2 separate regions of the Homo sapiens genome follow, and region 1 is linked to region 2. The links come from fine-mapping of genetic effects on gene expression. A gene starts in region 2. The other region holds a variant in brackets. All regions are shown on one strand. Distances are between the middles of the regions. Region 1 overlaps LMF1 (lipase maturation factor 1). Region 2 holds the start of STUB1 (STIP1 homology and U-box containing protein 1).

What was found. PIP is the estimated chance that this variant, and not a neighbour inherited with it, causes the effect.
Region 1: its variant is fine-mapped to the expression of STUB1 in monocytes after LPS (Quach 2016, PIP 0.95).

The regions. Positions count from the first base shown.
Region 1 is chr16:935,277-944,816 of GRCh38, forward strand. All of the region lies in intron 2 of LMF1 (lipase maturation factor 1), which reads right to left. Among named protein-coding and RNA genes, the nearest start is that of LMF1-AS1, 19 kb to the left of the region's middle. The variant C/T (reference allele first, on the strand shown) is at 4,260.
Region 2 is chr16:676,229-685,275 of GRCh38, forward strand. It overlaps STUB1 (STIP1 homology and U-box containing protein 1), which reads left to right and starts at 4,182. Exons shown (of 7, transcript NM_005861.4): 1 at 4,182-4,456; 2 at 4,924-5,122; 3 at 5,210-5,375; 4 at 5,565-5,652; 5 at 5,792-5,848; 6 at 5,937-6,053; 7 at 6,136-6,573. The coding sequence starts at 4,298. The coding sequence ends at 6,261. It overlaps RHBDL1 (rhomboid like 1), which reads left to right. Exons shown (of 8, transcript NM_001278720.2): 2 at 108-269; 3 at 444-668; 4 at 743-891; 5 at 1,048-1,160; 6 at 1,231-1,331; 7 at 1,411-1,471; 8 at 1,553-2,040. The coding sequence ends at 1,824. It overlaps JMJD8 (jumonji domain containing 8), which reads right to left and starts at 8,106. Exons shown (of 9, transcript NM_001005920.4): 1 at 8,006-8,106; 2 at 7,838-7,927; 3 at 7,633-7,681; 4 at 7,457-7,553; 5 at 7,302-7,370; 6 at 7,094-7,213; 7 at 6,939-7,006; 8 at 6,725-6,859; 9 at 5,442-6,646. The coding sequence starts at 8,091. The coding sequence ends at 6,566. It overlaps WDR24 (WD repeat domain 24), which reads right to left. Exons shown (of 9, transcript NM_032259.4): 7 at 9,029-9,047; 8 at 8,764-8,948; 9 at 8,394-8,674. The coding sequence ends at 8,506. It also overlaps the pseudogene STUB1-DT. RefSeq lists silencers at 3,661-3,770, 4,051-4,260, 7,776-8,085 and enhancers at 4,941-4,990, 4,961-5,548, 5,549-6,136, 8,486-8,535.

The DNA.
Region 1 (9,540 bases), 260 kb after region 2:
TTCTATAGAGGTTTTGCCATGTTGCCCTGGCTGGTCTCAAACTCCTAGACTCAGGCGATCCTCCTGCCTCCACCTCCCTAAGTGCTGGGATGACAGGTGTGAACTGCCCCAGCCAGAATGTTTTCAACGTGGTGCTGATGGCTTCAGAGTCCATGAATATGTACGCTGACTTGTACACTTTATGTCAGGGTTGTCGGTTGTCCAATCTTGTGGCTTCCGTGGGCCACAATGGAAGAAGAAAAATTGTCTTGGGCCACACATAAAATATACTAACACTAGTGACAGCTGATGAGCTAAAAAAAAAAAAACTCATAATGTTTTAAGAAAGTTTATGAATTTGTGTTGGGTCTCATTCAAAGCCATCCTGAGCCGCGTGTGGACAAGCTTGCTTTAAATGCAGTTTTATGGTATGTGAATTCTATCTCACTAAAGACATTAAGGAGCAACGTTGCCTAATGAAATCCACAGGAATGAAAAGCTACAGGGTGTGGGACGGCCCTCAGGGCCCACTGCCCATCCCAGGGCTCCCTACATCGTCCGACCTTTGAATATGTCTGTGATTTTCCACCTTGACATTACGATAAAAGCACAGCAAAGGCCATGACAAACGACATCTGAGCCGTGGGGGAGGTGGGCGGGGACAGAGTACTGGAGGGCTCATTCTTCAACCGCATCAGGTGTGTGGCTGCCCCAGTGGCTCTGATATCTTTTTAAATCATCCCTTACCCGGTAGAGGTCCACACTATTTATAGGTAAAAGAGTACGAAGTCTAGATTTGCTTTTCACTCCAGAGGAAGAAGGCTGGGAGGGAGAGAGGGCACCCCGTTGGCTGAGGAAGGAGGCTGGGAGGGAGAGAGGGCACCCCGTGGGCTGAGGAAGGTGGCTGGGAGACAGAGGGGGCACCGTGTGGGCTGAGGAAGGAGGCTGGGAGAGAGGGGGTACCCCGTGGGCTGAGGAAGGAGGCTGGGAGGGAGAGAGGGCACCCCGTGGGCTGAGGAAGGAGGCTGGGAGGGAGAGAGGGCACCCCGTGGGCTGAGGAAGGTGGCTGGGAGAGAGAGGGGGCACCGTGTGGGCTGAGGAAGGAGGCTAGGAGAGAGGGGGTACCCCGTGGGCTGAGGAAGCAGGCTGGGAGGGAGAGAGGGCACCCCGTGGGCTGAGGAAGGAGGCTGGGAGGGAGGGAGGGCACCCCGTGGGCTGAGGAAGGTGGCTGGGAGAGAGAGGAGGCACCCTGTGGGCTCAGGAAGGAGGCTGGGAGAGAGGGGGTACCCCGTGGGCTGAGGAAGCTGGCTGGGAGGGAGAGAGGGCACCCCGTGGGCTGAGGAAGGAGGCTGGGAGGGAGAGAGGGCACTCTGTGGGCTGCAGGATACACTCCCTGCCCCCCTTTCCGTGACCAAAATCTTCCAAGCAACCGCTGTACACATTGGCTAATGCTAGAAATAAATTTACCCCCAAAATGTTCCCAATATATAACCTTAGTTGAACGGAGAAAGGAAAAGGAGCTGATTTTTCAAATCCATAGAGAATAAAAGCTTTGCTCTTTTATTAGCCAGGTGTGGTGGCGCACACCTGTAGTCCCAGTGACCTTGGGGCCGAGGCTGGAAGATGGCTTAAGCCCAGGAGTTCCAGGCTGCAGTGAGCCAAGATCGCGCTACTATTGCACTCCAGCCTGGGCGACAGGGCGGGAGATCCTAGCTAAAAAGACGCAGCCTCACGCTTTTATCAGAAGGGACCAAGGCCTGGAAGAGTTTCAGTGACTCAGGGCCACCAAAATACAAGCGTTGTGCAGAGAAGGGGTGAGTCCAGACGCAGCTGCCTTCACATCGGCTGAGGGTGTTCGAAAATGCATTCTTCTGTCACTTCACCTGCTTTGAATTTTGCATTTCAAGGCTGCCTGATAAAAGAATCTTTAAATAGCAGGTTTTAGCTAAGGTAATGACACGAAAAACTAAAACGTCTTATTACTTTCATAGCTTTTATTACATTTTCAACAGTTGGAACTCACGTTAGAAGATACCGACTCCGTGGAGTTCTTCTGGGTTTGTTCTGCTGTTTTGTTCTTTAAAGAAACTCAAGTCCTTTCCTGGACAGTGGGACGTAGATTTTGCTTTTGGATGGTCGGGGTTAACACGCTCCCTCTGACTGCCTAGTGAGGTCAGGAACCTGCTCCCCTGTGAGCCTCCACACCTGACTGACAGGCCGCTGGGGTCTCTGTTGACTGACAGGCTGCTGGGGTCTCTGTTGACCGACAGGCTGCTGGGGTCTCTGTTGACTGACAGGTCGTTGGGGTCTCTGTGCTAGGGAGGCAGCAAGACCCCCGATGCCCTGCAGATGCTGCACACGGCCCCAGCACAGGCCCTGCCCCTTGCACTGGATGGGGGCTCCCATTTCTATAGGAAGCTTTTGATTTAAAAACACATTTGGCTCCAGCTACTTATCATCTGTAAAAAGACTTCATGTATAAATATTTGTTAAATTTTATGCTCCCCATTTTGGGGCAGGCTAGTTGTAAATTTGTAAGAAATCTTCCAGTTTCTGGCCTAGTGCAAAGAACTTTGCTGGAGGCCTATCTAGAGTGTGTAGTAGGGACTTAATCATGAACCATGTCCTCCTGAACCACGCCCAGGTTCCTGACTTGTGTCTGCAGCTGATCCTGAACCACGCCCAGGTTCCTGACTTGTGTCTGCAGCTGATCCCACCATCAAGACTGAAGTCTTTGTCATGTGGTGAAGGCCAAACGTGGATTTATTTACAGAAGTTACCAAAAAAAAAATACCACAAAAAAAGAGGGGCGCCTTTGGGTGAGAGCAGCTGGGGGGCTTCCATGTCTACCCGCCTCGCAGGAGAGGGGGTGGAGCACCCACCAGACCACTGTGCCTCCCACTCAATCACGGAACGGGGTGCCAGCTAGCACTGGCAAGGCCGGGACGCTGGGTCCCGCTGTGCAGGGCCATGGCCTGCCTGGCACAGGGAAGCGCTAGACTGAACAGTGGCTTGTGGGGACGGCAGGGATGGGGCTGGACAGTGGCTTGCAGGGACAGGGCTGGATGGTGGCTCGCGGGGACAGCAGGGACGGGGCTGGACGGCGGCTCACAGGGAAGGCAGGGATGGGGCTGGACGGCGGCTCGCGGGGACAGCAGGGATGGGGCTGGATGGCAGCTCGTGGGGATGGCAGGGGTGGGGCTGGACCACACATACCAGTTCGGCAGTGCCAGTGAGGCAACTGGTTCACTGAAGACATGACTGCTGCCACCCTAATGTTTAAGTTCATACAACAGAGAAAATAAAATGGTAATAACAAGAGGTGTCTTTGCAAACATCTGTCGCCTGTTGCCTCTTACTGGAGCTGCCAAGAGGAAGTCCAGGTCCCAGGGCTGTTGGGAGGACCCGGGCTGTTGAAGCCAGGCAGCGCAGGGAGCACCAAGTGCATGTGTGGCTCCCACGGACAGATGGATGGATGGACAGACGAAGGGATGGATGGACAGTGCTCCCATTACTGTGTGAAAACCGACCTCAGAGTACATAGTCCATTCACTACAGGTAAGCAATTTAAAACAGGATGTAAATATGTAAATAGCCCTTAAAAGTGTAAGGAAAAAGTGCTGGAGGCCGTTTCGACAAAGCACCTAAGGCAGCAATGAAAATGGGGAAAGACGGGCAGACTGGACACAAGAGGAAACCTGTGCAGAAAGCAAAGTCCGTGCATACAGAATGGGATGCGGCCAAGGGGTTACACCTTCCACGTGCATTTACCTTCCCGGACAGCAGGGCCTCTTACAGATGGATAAACAAAGAACATTCACACCAAAGGGGAACGGCAAAGGCAAAACACAAATCCCCAGAGAAACAACAAGAGCAAAACCAAGAAAAATAACTTGGCAGAGAAATGCGTATTTAAATAACATTATTTTCACTTAAAAACTCTCAGTGGTTTTTCGGAAATGGGATGTTCTGAGTAGGGAACAGGACAACAGCACGCTGTCCCCGCCGTGAGCACGAACCCTGGGTGCAGGCTGGCGGCACCCGTCCACCACGCACACCCTGACCCAGCAGCCCACCTCAGGAGCTAGTTCACACAGTAAGTCACAGCCCTGCAAAATATCCCTGCGCCACAAAGCTGGCCACCGAGGTGCCACTTCCAGCAATAAAAACCAGGAACAACCAACGTGCCGGCCGGTGGGCTTGGCGCAATGAGCAAACACACGTAACAGACCACCCTGTGGCCACCACACGTGCCGCCGAGCAGCGGAGGTCCAGACGGG[C/T]GCGTGGCATCTGGGGCAATGACCAGTGCGTCGCTGAGACTGCCGGCGCCAGGCCTCGACCCTGCTGTGTCTGCGGCGACCCGGCCCACTCTCCACGCGGCCTCTGCCTCTGTCAGGAGCAGTACATGCTGACCAAAGCTGCTGTAAGACAACGTCGGCGAGATGGGAAGATACTTGTGATTTGACGGGAAGTAAAAAAACTTTGGTTATTTCCAATATTGTCATAAGGACCAGGTAATGAAAATTGTTTAAGAATTAAGTGACCAGACAGGGAATAAAACAGGGTGCGCAGTCTGAGCCCACCTTTATTAGAGAGAAGCCCTGGGCAGTGGGCTAAAAGGAGGCCCCCAGAAAGACCTGTCCACATCTTAATGCCTGCACCCTGTCTTATTTGGAAAAGGGGTCTCTGTGGAGGTAATTAAGTTAAGGATCTCGAGGTGAGGGCGTCCTGGACTATGTGATCACAGACGTCCTCATCAGAGAGACGTACCAGGAACCCTGAGACAGACCAAAGGGGAGGAGGCAAAGCGGCAGGGACCCGAGTGATACGTCCACAAGCCGGGGGTGCCCGGAGCCTCCAGGGGCTGGAAGAGACGAGGAAGGACCTTCCCGCAGAGACTCGGAGGGAAGGGAAGGTCCCTCCTCCCATAGAGACTTGGGTGGAACTGGCCCTGCCGACACCCTGATTTCGGACTTCTGGCCTCAAGAACTGTGGAAGAGTAAGTGTTTCTTGTTTGAAGCCTCCCCACGTGGTCACGGTCATGGCTGCAGAATGCCGCCATGCATCTCTCACAGGGCCATGGGAACTGGTTTGGACATATCTCCATTCCCTGTTGACCACCTAGAAACACAGGCTCACCCACCGGGGACCAGCATATCATGGAGGACAAGGCAGGTGGTGTGGGAGGGTCCTCCCCGCAGGCAGCGTCCTGCCTGGGACGACGACCACAGGAAACAGCTGGGAAACCCCAAAGAGGAACACCATTTATTTAAAGGAATGCATAACTTTAAAATATCAGTGTCATAAAAGATGGATGTCCCAGAAGAGACCAGACAACTAAACCCAACGCCGAACCCTATTCTGGAAAGTAAATGCTATAAGGATTATCCTTAGGTCAGATGACAAACTGGAAAATGAGTGGGAGACGCAGTCTCAGAACCGCAACCGTGTTAAACCTACTGCAGCTGATCCCTGCAGGAATGAAAAGAACACTCTTCTTAGGAAAAACACCCGGAAGTACTGCAGGGTAAAGGGATTCATCAATTATGTCAAAGTGGCCGATAGTGCCGTTCTGATCTTCTATGTCTTCTTTTTTTTGTTTGTTTAGTTGTTCTTTCAATTATTGAAAGAGTGATTGATGTTAAAATCTCCAAACAGAATTGTGAATTTGTGTATTTCTTCCTGGAGTTCTGCAATTTTTGCTTCATATATTGTGAGGTTCAGTATGTGGTGCCTTTATGTCTTTATGATCAATTAAGTCTTTTATTACCACAAAATGTCTCTGTACACCTCTGATAATACTCCGTGTCCTGAACTTTACTTTGTCTAAAGTTAATACAGCCACTCTAGCTTTCCAGTATATTTATGTAGTCTATCCTTCTTTATCTTTATCCTTCCTCTTTCAACTCATTTGTACCTTTATATTTAAAGCATAGCTCTTGAAAACTGCATATACTTGATACCTGATTTTTTTAAATTGATTTTTTTTTTTGCGACAGAGTCTCACTCTGTTGCCCAGGCTGGAGTGCAGTGGCTCACTGCAACCTCTGCCTCCTGGGTTCAAGTGACTCTCCCTGCCTCAGCCTCCTGAGTGGCTGGGACTACAGGCACGTGCAACTATGCCCGGGTAATTTTTGTATTTTTAGTAAAGATGAGGCTTCACCATGTTGGCCAGGCTGGTCTTGAACTCCTGATGACCTCAGGTGATCTGCCTGCCTTGGCCTCCCAAAGTGCTGGCATTACAGGTATGAGCCACCATGCCTGGCCTGATTCTAAATCTCTGTCTTTTAATTGGAAGATTTAGTCACTTACATTTAATGTAATCATTGATATGGCTCATTGGTTATTTTTTGTTTTCAGAGTCTCACCTGGTTTTTCGTCCTGTTCCTCTGTTCCTGCCTTCTTACTGGAAGCAAACATGTTTAACACTCCATTTCAATCACTCCATGGGCTCCTCAGCTACATATCTTTGCACTACTTTTAGTGATTGCCCTAGGGCTAACAGCAGGTATCTCACCTACTCACAACAGACCTGGGGTTAATATTTTCTCGCTTCACGTAGAATTTAGAGAGCCAGTGATGTTACAGATTCAGGAAGGATCCCCTCCCTCCTTTGTGCTAATGTTGTGTATATTACAGTATTACAGTTTTTGCCTTAGTTGTGTCTGTATTAAATTAAGAAAAAAAGAAATAGAGAACATTTCATATTTCCCTACCTTTACCATGTCCAGTGGATTTTACTCCTTTCTATAGATGACTTTCTGCCTAGCAATAATTCTTTCTGCCAAGCAATAATTCCTTCAGCCTGAAGATATTCCTTTAACATTTCTATAGTGTGTCTGCTGGCAAAGCCTTCTCTCAGTTTTCCGTTATCTGAAAATGTCTTTATTTTGCTTTTGTTTTTGAAGGATATTGTCACTGGATAGAACTCTGGGTTGACAATCGTTTTTCTTTAGAACTCTAAAGATGCCAGTCCATCATCCTCTGGCCTCCAGTGGTTATAAGAAGCCAGACATATTTGAATCTTTATTCTTTGAGTGTAACGTCTTTTTCCTTCCAGGTGCTATCTTTGTCTTTGGTATTCGGTAGTTTGACTACAATGTGCCCAGATAACATTTTCTCTTACTTTTACTGCTTACAGTGTGCTGAGCTTCTTGGATTTACACATTTATATCATTCAGCTATTATTTCTTTAAATACTTTTTATGCCCCATTTTCTGTGTCCTCTCTCTGTGGGGCTCCAATCACAAGTATGTTAGACCACCTGGTGCTATATGCCTCATTCTCTGTGTCCTCTCTCTGTGGGGCTCCAATCACACATATGTTAGCCCACCGGGTGCTACGTGCCCCATTCTCTGCGTCCTCTCTCTGTGGGGCTCCAATCACATGTATGTTAGACCACCTGGTGCTATTTGCCCCATTCTCTGTGTCCTCTCTCTGTGGGGCTCCAATCACATGTATGTTAGACCACCTAGTGCTATATGCCCCATTCTCTGTGTCCTCTCTCTGTGGGGCTCCAATCACATGTATGTTAGACCACCTGGTGCTATATGCCCCATTCTGTGTGTCCTCTCTCTGTGGGGCTCCAATCACAGGTATGTTAGACCACCTGGTGCTATCCCACATGTCACTGAAGCTCTGCTCGTTTCAATCTTTTTTCTGTTTGTTCTTTAGCTTGGATAATTTCTACAGATTTCTCTTAAAATTCATTGAGGCTATCTTCTACCCACCTCCAACCTGTTATTAAGCCCAGGCAACAGATTTTTCAGTACAGATACTGTACTTTTCAGTTCTAAAATGTCCAATTGACTCTTCTTTAAAGATTCAGAGTCTCGGCCGGGCACGGTGGCTCACGCCTGTAATCCCAGCACTTTGGGAGGCCGAGGCGGGTGGATCACAAGGTCAGGAGATCGAGACCATCCTGGCTAACACGGTGAAACCCTGTCTCTACTAAAAATACAAAAAATTAGCCAGGTGTGGTGGTGGGCGCCTGTAGTCCCAGCTACTCAGGAGGCTGAGGCAGGAGAATGGAGTGAACCCAGGAGGTGGAGCTTGCAGTGAGCCGAGATCGCGCCACTGCACTCCAGCCTGGGCGACAGAGCGAGACTCCATCTCAAAAAAAAAAAAAAAAAAAGATTCAGAGTCTCTGCTAAATTTCCCATGTGTTCATTCATTAAGACCACTACTAGGCTGGGTGTGGTAGTTCATGCCTGTAATCCCAGCACTTTGGGAGGCCGAGGCGGGCGGATCACCTGAGGTCAGGAGTTTGAGACCAGCCTGGCCAACAATGGTGAAACACCATTTCTATTAAAAATACAAAAATTAGCTGGGTGTGGTGGTGCACACCTATAATCCCAGCTACTTGGGAGGCTGAAGCAGGAAAATTGTTTGAACCTGCGAGGTGGAGGTTGAAGTGAGCCAAGATCTCACCACTGCACTCCAGCCTGGGGGACAGAATGAGACTCTGTCTCAAAAAAAAAAAAAAAAAAAAAAAAGAGGAATACTTCCCTTGAGTCCTGGTGTGTATCTGTAATGGCTGCCTCAAATCCTCTTTTCTACGTGTGCTATCTTGGCTATCATGGTCAGTTTCTTGTGACCCTTTTTTGTTTCCTGTATAGGGATCCTATTTTCCTGTTTCTTTACTTGTGTAGTAGTTTCTGATTCTAGTTGACATTATGAAAGATCATAACATCATTGAGAAGTTAATTTTGTCTGCTTCCTTTGGAGAGTGAATGAGTCTGTCTGGTAAGCAGCTGAGCTACTGGAGGATGAACTTGGTCTTTCCAAAAGCTCAGTTAGGGTCAGTCTAGAACAGCCCTTTTCTAGGGCGAGAGGAACCCTCCTCCTAAGATGTGGCCTTTCTGGGGGCATGCGCTGAGTGCCTAGGGTCTTATGCAAGTCACCTCTGGACCGGCTGATGGGGAGGCTTGTCTCCCAGCCAGCACTGTGGGACCCTCAGACTCACCACTAAGGTCACCACTCCCTACCTGCCACTTTCCACCAACCCTCAAAGACTCTACCCGCCACTTTCCACCAACCCTCAAAGACTCTCACTCTCCACGTTCACAGCTTAGAACAAACCCAAGGACTTAGTGGAATCCATGTAGCTTTCTGTGGTGATGTCTGTGTTAGCTCCTTTACTCTAATGCCTTGCCGCACAAATGCAAGCTGCCCTCAACTCTGATCCCTGCCTCCTGAGCTTGGAGACGCCTTGTGTTCTGCTGGGTGCCCTAGCTGTGGTGTACAAGGTGCTCAGGCAGAAGGCCGGGGCCACCAAGGCCACCCTGTATGTATCTCCTTTCCAGGGACAGCAGTCCTGGGCACCTGTGCCCTCTGGTATTTCACTTGCTGACGGTTTCATAGTGGGGAGGCTCGTCCTGCACCTGCCACTCTGCCATGGACGGGCATGGAGTCCATGAAGACAAATCTCTTATTTTAAAGTATTGTTTCAATGTGAGACGTCCTCTCCCTCAAACTGCCCCTGCCAGGCTTGCCCTGTCTACGGCCCCTCCTTGCTGCTTGCTGAAGTCTCGCCCTGTCTACGGCCCCAGTGCCCTAAAC
Region 2 (9,047 bases):
AAAAGTGCTGGGAGCCTGAGCCTGATGCTCCCAGCCAGCCTGGCCCAGCCCTTTGGTCCAGGGGTCGGGCCCGCACTCAGGCCTTGGCTGGCGGCTCCTCACTGCAGCAGCTGGACCCCGAGAACACAGGCTTCATCGGTGCGGACACCTTCACTGGCCTGGTGCACAGCCATGAGCTGCCCCTGGACCCGGCCAAGCTGGACATGCTGGTGGCCCTGGCTCAGAGCAACGAGCAGGGCCAGGTCTGCTACCAGGAGCTGGTGGACCTGGTCAGTGCCACGGTGGGCAGGCGGCAGGGGCACGGTGTCCTGGCCAGAGGAGGCGGGCAGGCAGCTCCTCACGGCGGTGGGTGGGGGGCTTGTGGATGCGGGGAGCTGGGTGAGCCTCACAGGCAGGGGTGCCATGGGGAGGTCCGTGGCCCACACTCAGGCCCCTGCCCCCAGATCAGCAGCAAGCGCTCCAGCAGTTTCAAGCGGGCCATTGCTAACGGACAGCGGGCACTGCCCCGGGACGGGCCGCTGGATGAGCCAGGCCTAGGTGTCTACAAGCGGTTTGTGCGTTACGTGGCCTACGAGATCCTGCCTTGTGAGGTGGACCGCCGCTGGTACTTCTACCGTCACCGCAGCTGCCCACCCCCCGTGTTCATGGCCTCGGTCACTCTTGCCCAGGTGGGCCCCCCGGCCGCTGCCCCGGGAGCCTCCCGCGCTCCTGGCCATGACCAGCCTAACACTCGTGTCCCCAGATCATCGTGTTCCTGTGTTACGGGGCCCGCCTCAACAAGTGGGTGCTGCAGACCTACCACCCCGAGTACATGAAGAGCCCCCTTGTGTACCACCCCGGGCACCGTGCCCGCGCCTGGCGCTTCCTCACCTACATGTTCATGCACGTTGGGTGAGTAGCACTGCTGCCCGGTGAGCCCCGCCCCAACCTGCCATTACATCAGAAAGGCTTAGCCGCAAGGCAGGTGCGGCAACTTGAGGTGACGGCTGGGGGTGGGGCCGGATGGCTGACCCCACCCTTCGTACCCGTTTGCTTCCCTGTGGCCAGGCTGGAGCAGCTGGGGTTCAACGCCCTCCTGCAGCTGATGATCGGGGTGCCCCTGGAGATGGTGCACGGCCTGCTCCGCATCAGCCTGCTCTACCTGGCAGGCGTGCTGGCAGGTGAGGCAGGCGCGCACCCCCGCCCCCTGCCCTGGCCGGCTGCACCCTCACCCGCCGCTTGCTCACACAGGCTCCCTAACCGTCTCCATCACCGACATGCGGGCCCCGGTGGTGGGAGGCTCCGGCGGGGTCTACGCCCTGTGCTCGGCACACCTGGCCAACGTTGTCATGGTAACGGGCCTGCCCGGTGGGGGGCGTGGGGAGGGGCCCCAGGTGAGCCTCACCACTTCTCGTCTGCACACACCCATAGAACTGGGCTGGGATGAGATGTCCCTACAAGTTGCTGAGGATGGTGCTGGCCTTGGTGTGCAGTGAGTAGGGGCCGGGGGGAGGGCCGGGGGGCCTCTCAGCCTGCAGCCAGGGCACCTCCCACCTGCCGCGTCCCTCTGCAGTGAGCTCCGAGGTGGGCCGGGCCGTGTGGCTGCGCTTCTCCCCGCCGCTGCCCGCCTCGGGCCCACAGCCCAGCTTCATGGCGCACCTGGCAGGCGCGGTGGTGGGGGTGAGCATGGGCCTGACCATCCTGCGGAGCTACGAGGAGCGCCTGCGGGACCAGTGCGGCTGGTGGGTGGTGCTGCTGGCCTACGGCACCTTCCTGCTCTTCGCCGTCTTCTGGAACGTCTTCGCCTACGACCTGCTGGGCGCCCACATCCCCCCACCGCCCTGACCGGCTACCTGAGGCTGCACAGGCCAGGGCTCGGGCATGTGGTGGCCGCCCACCAGGGGCCTTCACGTCTGCCCTTTGTGAACGGACGTCTCAGGGCTGCTGTGCCCCTTGGGTGTGGGTGGCCTCAAAGGAGGCCCTGTCCCAGCCACCCACCCCCCACTCCCAGGACTTGCGGTCTGAGCCTTTTTGGATAATTAATAAATATTTTACACAGCACCAGGGGGCTGTCCCGGGCTCTGGAGACTCGTCAGGGCCCCCACACCTGCTGCACAGACCGCGACGGCCCTCCCCACCACGGGGGCCTGGACTTCCCTCCTTGTGCATCTCTGCACCTGGGGTCAGGCGTGGGAGTTGTTCCTGGGCCACAGGTGCTGTGTCTGTGGGAGCTGGGGGCACGCGGGATGGCTGGGGGCCGGGCGTGTGGTCAGGCCAGGTGTGTGGTCAGGCCGGGTGTGTGATCAGGCGTGAGTTTGGGAAGTGTTTATTGAGCTCCCGTAGTGGCCAGCCTCCTCTTCAGCCTCCCTGCCGTCCAGTGAGACCCGGAGGCCTGAGGTTCTGTGGCAGGTGAGCAGGCCTGGGCCATGGCCAAGTTTACTCGGCCTGGGTTCCATGCTTCTTGGCTGGCCTAGCATCCTCGTGGGTGGCCAGGCTGGGGCCAAGGTTGGGCAGCAGGTCTGGGCACAGCCTCTGCCCCACAGCCCAGGTCCACAGTGCTGTCTCCACTAGGTAGGGAGTCCACTGTCCTGAGGCACTGGCTAGGGAGGGGCACACGGACTCAGGCCCAGGGGCACGGGCCACCCCAACCTGCCCACACACAGTTCATTCCCCTTGGCTCAGAGCTGTGGCCCGCTCTTGAACCTGGCCCAGGTACAGCAGGTAGTACCTGAGGGTGTACTGTGGGGCCGGCCAGCCGGGCACTGTGGCCACCGCCTCATCTGACATGAAGGCCTCCATCTCTGGAGCTCCAGCTGCCAGGACTGCTGTGAACAGCGAGGAGAAGCAGCCAGACACACCCCATCAGGACAAGCTCTGGGAGACCCTGCTCCCAGCAGCCCAGGGCCCTATGGTTCCTGCTCCTAGCGACACGCAAGGGCCCAGACTGCCCGCTTCACAGACAAGAACGCCTATGTACCCAAGTCGTGCCCACCCAACTCACCCGAGGCTGTGGTGGGCCCACACCGCAGAGGGCACACAGCTCGGTGACTGCAGCCCCCACATCTGGCAGGAGGCAGAAGGTGGCGGTCGAACAGTGCACAACCAGCTCAGGGGGATTGGTGGCCACCAGCTGCTGCAGACGTGGCCGGAAGCGCCCCTCTGTGGGAGGCCAGGTCAGGGTGCCTGGGGTGCTGGACCCACCAGGGAGGCCCCGCCCCCACTGGAGACACCCGCCCCGCCGATGCCACGCCCCAATGAAGACCCGCGCTACGGAGGCCCTGCCCTCGGGGCGGGCCGCCCTTCACAGTCAAGCTGCCAGGCCAGCAGCCGCTCCAGCTCCCTGTCACATGCTTCTCTGCTCTGCCCCTGATGGCCGCTGGCAACTCTTCCCGATACCTGAGGAAGGGCGGTGAGGGGAGGACTGGCCACGGAGGACGCTCGCCCCACCGATCTCTATCCCCTTCCACTCTACCAACAGTCCGGGGCTTCCAGCCGCCCTCGGGGGCTCGCGCTCGCCCGTAGCACCTCTCGTGGCGCTCCAGAATGGCAGCCCAGCGACTGGGGTCCTCACACCCCACAGCGCGTGGGAAGCCGCTACGTTCACGCGCAGGGGCGGGAGGCGGCGGCTGGGGGCGGGGCCTCTGCTGATGGGGCCGGGTGCTGGGGGCGGGGCCTCTGGATTGGGCGGTTGCTGGGGGCGGGGCCTCTGCGGATGGGGCTGGGGGCGGGGCCTCTGCTGATGGGGCCGGCGGCTGGGGGCGGGGCCTCTGGATTGGGCGGCTGCTGGGGGCGGGGCCTCTGCGGATGGGGCCGGCTGCTGGGGGCGGGGCCTCTGGATGGGGCCGGCTGCCGGGGGAGGGGTCTCTGCGCGTTGGGACAGGGGCGGAACCCCAGGTGGTCGGGACAGGCTGTTGCGGGAGCGCGCCCTCAGCGAAGCAAGTGAGGCATCTCACTGGGAAAGTCGAATGTGTGTGGCGGCCGCCGCCGAGGCGGGTTCCGAAGAGACCTCAGCAGGGCAGGCCAGGGCCTACGCGAACGCCCACCCTTAAGAGCGCGGGGACAGGGAACTGGAGCGTTCCTCCCAGCCCCCGACGTCGCGGGCCCAGTGTCCCCGTCCAGGCTGGTTGGGCGCACGCGCGGCCCCACTCGCCCCCACGCGTGCGTCCCCGCTGGTCCCGCCCCCGGCCGGAAGTTCCGGCGGCGGAGCTGGGCCGGGCCCGAGCGGATCGCGGGCTCGGGCTGCGGGGCTCCGGCTGCGGGCGCTGGGCCGCGAGGCGCGGAGCTTGGGAGCGGAGCCCAGGCCGTGCCGCGCGGCGCCATGAAGGGCAAGGAGGAGAAGGAGGGCGGCGCACGGCTGGGCGCTGGCGGCGGAAGCCCCGAGAAGAGCCCGAGCGCGCAGGAGCTCAAGGAGCAGGGCAATCGTCTGTTCGTGGGCCGAAAGTACCCGGAGGCGGCGGCCTGCTACGGCCGCGCGATCGTGAGTGCGCCCGCGCGGGGAGGGCGGCGGCGGTGGCACCGGGGAGGGCCGGGCCCGGGCCCGGCCGGCCCCACCGAGGGTCTGGCTCCTCTTCGGGGCGTGTCCTCGGCTCCCAAAGCCCAGCCGTGGTTCTCGAGCCCAGCGCCGGGTGCCGGAGAACGAGGGTGCGATGCTGGATGGAGGCCGGCCGGGTGGGGGGAGGGCAGGGGCCCTCGACCCTTGAGGACCCCAGGTCCTAAGCCCGGACTCTCCAAAGATTTGGAAAACTTTACAAAACCAAGTGGAATCAAGCGGATAGGCTCAGCCAGTACTCCACTGTGCACAGATCCTTGGACCCAGGGGCTTTGACAACTGAGAAACCTAGTTTCTTGATTCTAGCCAGAGCGCAGAAGCTGGGACGGGCCGTGGGTCAGAGTGGGCACGCTGAGCCTACGCCCTCATGCGGCTGGCCCGGCCTTGGTCCCTAGACCCGGAACCCGCTGGTGGCCGTGTATTACACCAACCGGGCCTTGTGCTACCTGAAGATGCAGCAGCACGAGCAGGCCCTGGCCGACTGCCGGCGCGCCCTGGAGCTGGACGGGCAGTCTGTGAAGGCGCACTTCTTCCTGGGGCAGTGCCAGCTGGAGATGGAGAGCTATGATGAGGCCATCGCCAATCTGCAGCGAGGTTGGCTGACAAGCTGCCCGGTTGTGGGGCCTCTGGGGCCAGGCGGGTGGACTGGCCAGAGAGTGACGTGAAGCCCCCGTTCCCCAGCTTACAGCCTGGCCAAGGAGCAGCGGCTGAACTTCGGGGACGACATCCCCAGCGCTCTTCGAATCGCGAAGAAGAAGCGCTGGAACAGCATTGAGGAGCGGCGCATCCACCAGGAGAGCGAGCTGCACTCCTACCTCTCCAGGCTCATTGCCGCGGAGCGTGAGAGGTGGGACCCTCACCCCAGGCCGCCCTGTCTTGGGATAATTCTGAATCACCGACTCCCGACACAAGCGTTTATCGAAGGCTTTACTGGCAAGCAGGAAATGTGGGGAAGTGTGGATGTTAGCTCTGAGATTGGGGTGTGGTCAGACATCTGGCCAGGTCCATCTCTGACCGGCTCCTGGTCAACCCCCAGGGAGCTGGAAGAGTGCCAGCGAAACCACGAGGGTGATGAGGACGACAGCCACGTCCGGGCCCAGCAGGCCTGCATTGAGGCCAAGCACGTGAGGGTGCCCCCCACCCACATGTGGGTCTGTGTGTGTGCACGTGGCGTGGGAGCATCCCCGCCTTGTGTTGGGTCTGTGCCCCATGGAGGAGGGAGGTGGGGTGTCTCCCCCAAGCACAGCACTCAACTCTTCACAGGACAAGTACATGGCGGACATGGACGAGCTTTTTTCTCAGGTGGATGAGAAGAGGAAGGTGAGTGTGTGTCGCTTGCTGCCGATGGCTGGCAGGTGCTCGTGCAGTGCCCCTTTTCAGCCTCTGACCGTGTGCCCCTGTGCCACAGAAGCGAGACATCCCCGACTACCTGTGTGGCAAGATCAGCTTTGAGCTGATGCGGGAGCCGTGCATCACGCCCAGTGGCATCACCTACGACCGCAAGGACATCGAGGAGCACCTGCAGGTGAGGCCTGCGGCTGGGGGAGCAGGGCCAGTGGCATGGTCCTGGGCCCCATGACTGCCCTCTGCCCTTCTTGTCACTGCAGCGTGTGGGTCATTTTGACCCCGTGACCCGGAGCCCCCTGACCCAGGAACAGCTCATCCCCAACTTGGCTATGAAGGAGGTTATTGACGCATTCATCTCTGAGAATGGCTGGGTGGAGGACTACTGAGGTTCCCTGCCCTACCTGGCGTCCTGGTCCAGGGGAGCCCTGGGCAGAAGCCCCCGGCCCCTATACATAGTTTATGTTCCTGGCCACCCCGACCGCTTCCCCCAAGTTCTGCTGTTGGACTCTGGACTGTTTCCCCTCTCAGCATCGCTTTTGCTGGGCCGTGATCGTCCCCCTTTGTGGGCTGGAAAAGCAGGTGAGGGTGGGCTGGGCTGAGGCCATTGCCGCCACTATCTGTGTAATAAAATCCGTGAGCACGAGGTGGGACGTGCTGGTGTGTGACCGGCAGTCCTGCCAGCTGTTTTGGCTAGCCGAGGAAGGTGGAGATGAAGACGCTGGTGTCAAGGTTGAGCGTAGCATGCCACCAGCGGTCGGGGAAGTACAGCACCTGGTGGAGGAAGGGGGTGCAGCAGAGATTAGCTGCGGGCCTCTAGCCTGGCCTGGCCCTCTCCTGCCAGCCACTGACCTCACCAGCCCGGATGGTACACTCCAGGGGCCGTGCAGACGGTGGCAGGGCTGGGTATGTGTCCCGGAGCCAGGCCAGCGTGGTCTTGTTGGGGTGGAACTCTGGCGTCTTCTCAGGTGGGTAAAGGAACCAGCGCTGGGGGCATGAGCAGCAGTGTCACCCTTGCCCGTTTTGGTCAGCGAGTCCCAAGCCTCAACCCCCACCCCGTGCTGACCTTACGACCGTAGATCACTTCTGAGTACCCGGGTCCATGCCAGTGGAAGGGCACCCCCGAGCCAGCTCCTGTGGGGTTATGAGCACCTGGTGACCAACCCATTTTGTACTCACCGACAGAAGCCTCAGTCCTTCCCAGTCCCAAGAAGCACCCACCTGCGATTCCAAAGCTGTAAGCTGGAGCGGTTCCCAGCAGGCCAAATGGGGGTGGGGAGTAGTGCCGAAAGAGAGAGGCCCACTCGGTGAAGTTGTTGTCCCCGAAGAAGTACAGGGTGTCTGCCAACAGAGACGGCGGGGACAGGGATCCTGGCACCTGGAGACTCCAAGCGTCCCCACCCCCTACCGCCGCCTAGGGCTGCCTCACCATTGCCCAGGGAGGTGGGGTCCTGGGGGTGCAGCAGCTGCTCCACATACTCCTGGAAGGGCAAGTCCACTGCAGGAAAGAGACGGGTCAGGACCGTCTGGTCCAGCCGCCCCGGTGTTGGCAAATGGGCGGGCCCCAGGGGTGAGGCCGCGTACCTTTGTGGTAGGAGTAGGTGTTGGCGGTGCTCAGCCGGACCACTCTGTCCCCAAACGAAGCCAGCAACCTGTCGCGGGAGCACAGGGCCCGGAACCTCTGCGGGGGCGGGGAGGGGACTTAGTGGCCGGGCCCAGCACGGGCGAGAGTGGCCGGGGACGGACGGGCACGCGCTCACCGAGTTGTCCGTGAGTCCCTGCAGGATGACGGGCCTGACGAAGGCGTACCTGGAAAGAAGGGCAGAGTCGCGGCCAGGCCGGACCGCCAGCCTCGCCGCCCCAGCCCCACGCGTGCGCGCGAGGTCAGGGGAAGGCGGCCTTGGGCGGTCGGGGCAGACGGGCCGGTGAACAGGACGCGACCTCCGCGATCAGGGGCGCACGTACTGCTGCACGAACTCCGCGTAGGTGAGGTCGGCCCGACGCTCCACCGTGCAGCGCTCCTCCTCCGCCACGGCCCCCGGCCCGCCCGGGCGCCTGCGGGCACAGCTGGGTCAGCCCGCGCCCCGCCCGCCGCACGTGACCCCACCGCCCGGCCCCTCCCGGGCCGCTCACCACCCGCCGTCGCCCTCCGCCCCGGAGCCGGGTAGAGCCACAGCCGCCAGCGCCCAGAGCGCGAGCAACCGCGACGCCGGCGCCATGAGCCTGCCGCCCTCAGGCAGCCGCGCTGCACGCCGGGAACCTTGGGCCCATCCGCCAGCCATTGGCCGGCAGCTTCGTCGTCGTGGCAACGGCCGGGAACCGGGACGGACCCCGGAAGTGACCTCCTTTGGCCCGCCCCGGAAGAGGCCTCTACGGGAGGCACTGGGAAGGCCGCCCCGAGAGCGACTATGGGCGCCGCCGGTTACCATGGCGACAACCCCGCCGAAAGCCCCCGCCCGCCAGCTGCCCCGCGGGCCTACGGCGAGCCCGCCGCGCTATGGGGTGACACGCAGTGCCGACAGCGGCTCTACTTCCTTTATTGAGGTCTCAAGTTCCAGCCTCCGCCCGTCTCGGGCACAAGACCAGGCGGGGTTCTGCACGCGGCCGCCCGGGCAAGCCCAGCAGATGCCCCGTCAGGAGTACTCGCAGAGGTGGCCGCAGCCTGCGGGACAGTGGGAGCTGCCTTCCAGCCACTTCATGATGTGCTGCAGGTGGCCGCCGTGGCTGCAGCCCTGGCACCACACGAAGAGACCCTTGACTACGTGGTGGCAGACGGCACACATGCTGGCGCAGCGGTGGCACCTGGGGGCGGGCGGGAGGGAGGGTGCCTCAGCGGGGGCTGCTGCGCTGCCTGCAGGCCCCTGCCCCACCTCCCGACCCCACTGCCCCACCTGTCGCAGACCCAGCCCCGGCTGCTCATGGGCCGCTTGCAGTGGCTGCAGTTGACGTGCAGGGTGGTGGAGGCCTGGTTGAGGCAGCTGACGGCGCGGCTGGTGCTCAGCTTGACCACCTCGTTGGACACGTTCCAGAGGCGGAAGCGCTGCAGCAGGTCGATGTAGGAAGTGTACCAGTGCTCCTGGGGGAGGGAGCGCCCGGCAGTCAGGATCTGGGTGCCAGGGGCGGCGCTGCAGGGGGGAGGCCCCGCCCACCACACACCTGGGTCTGCTCGTCGATG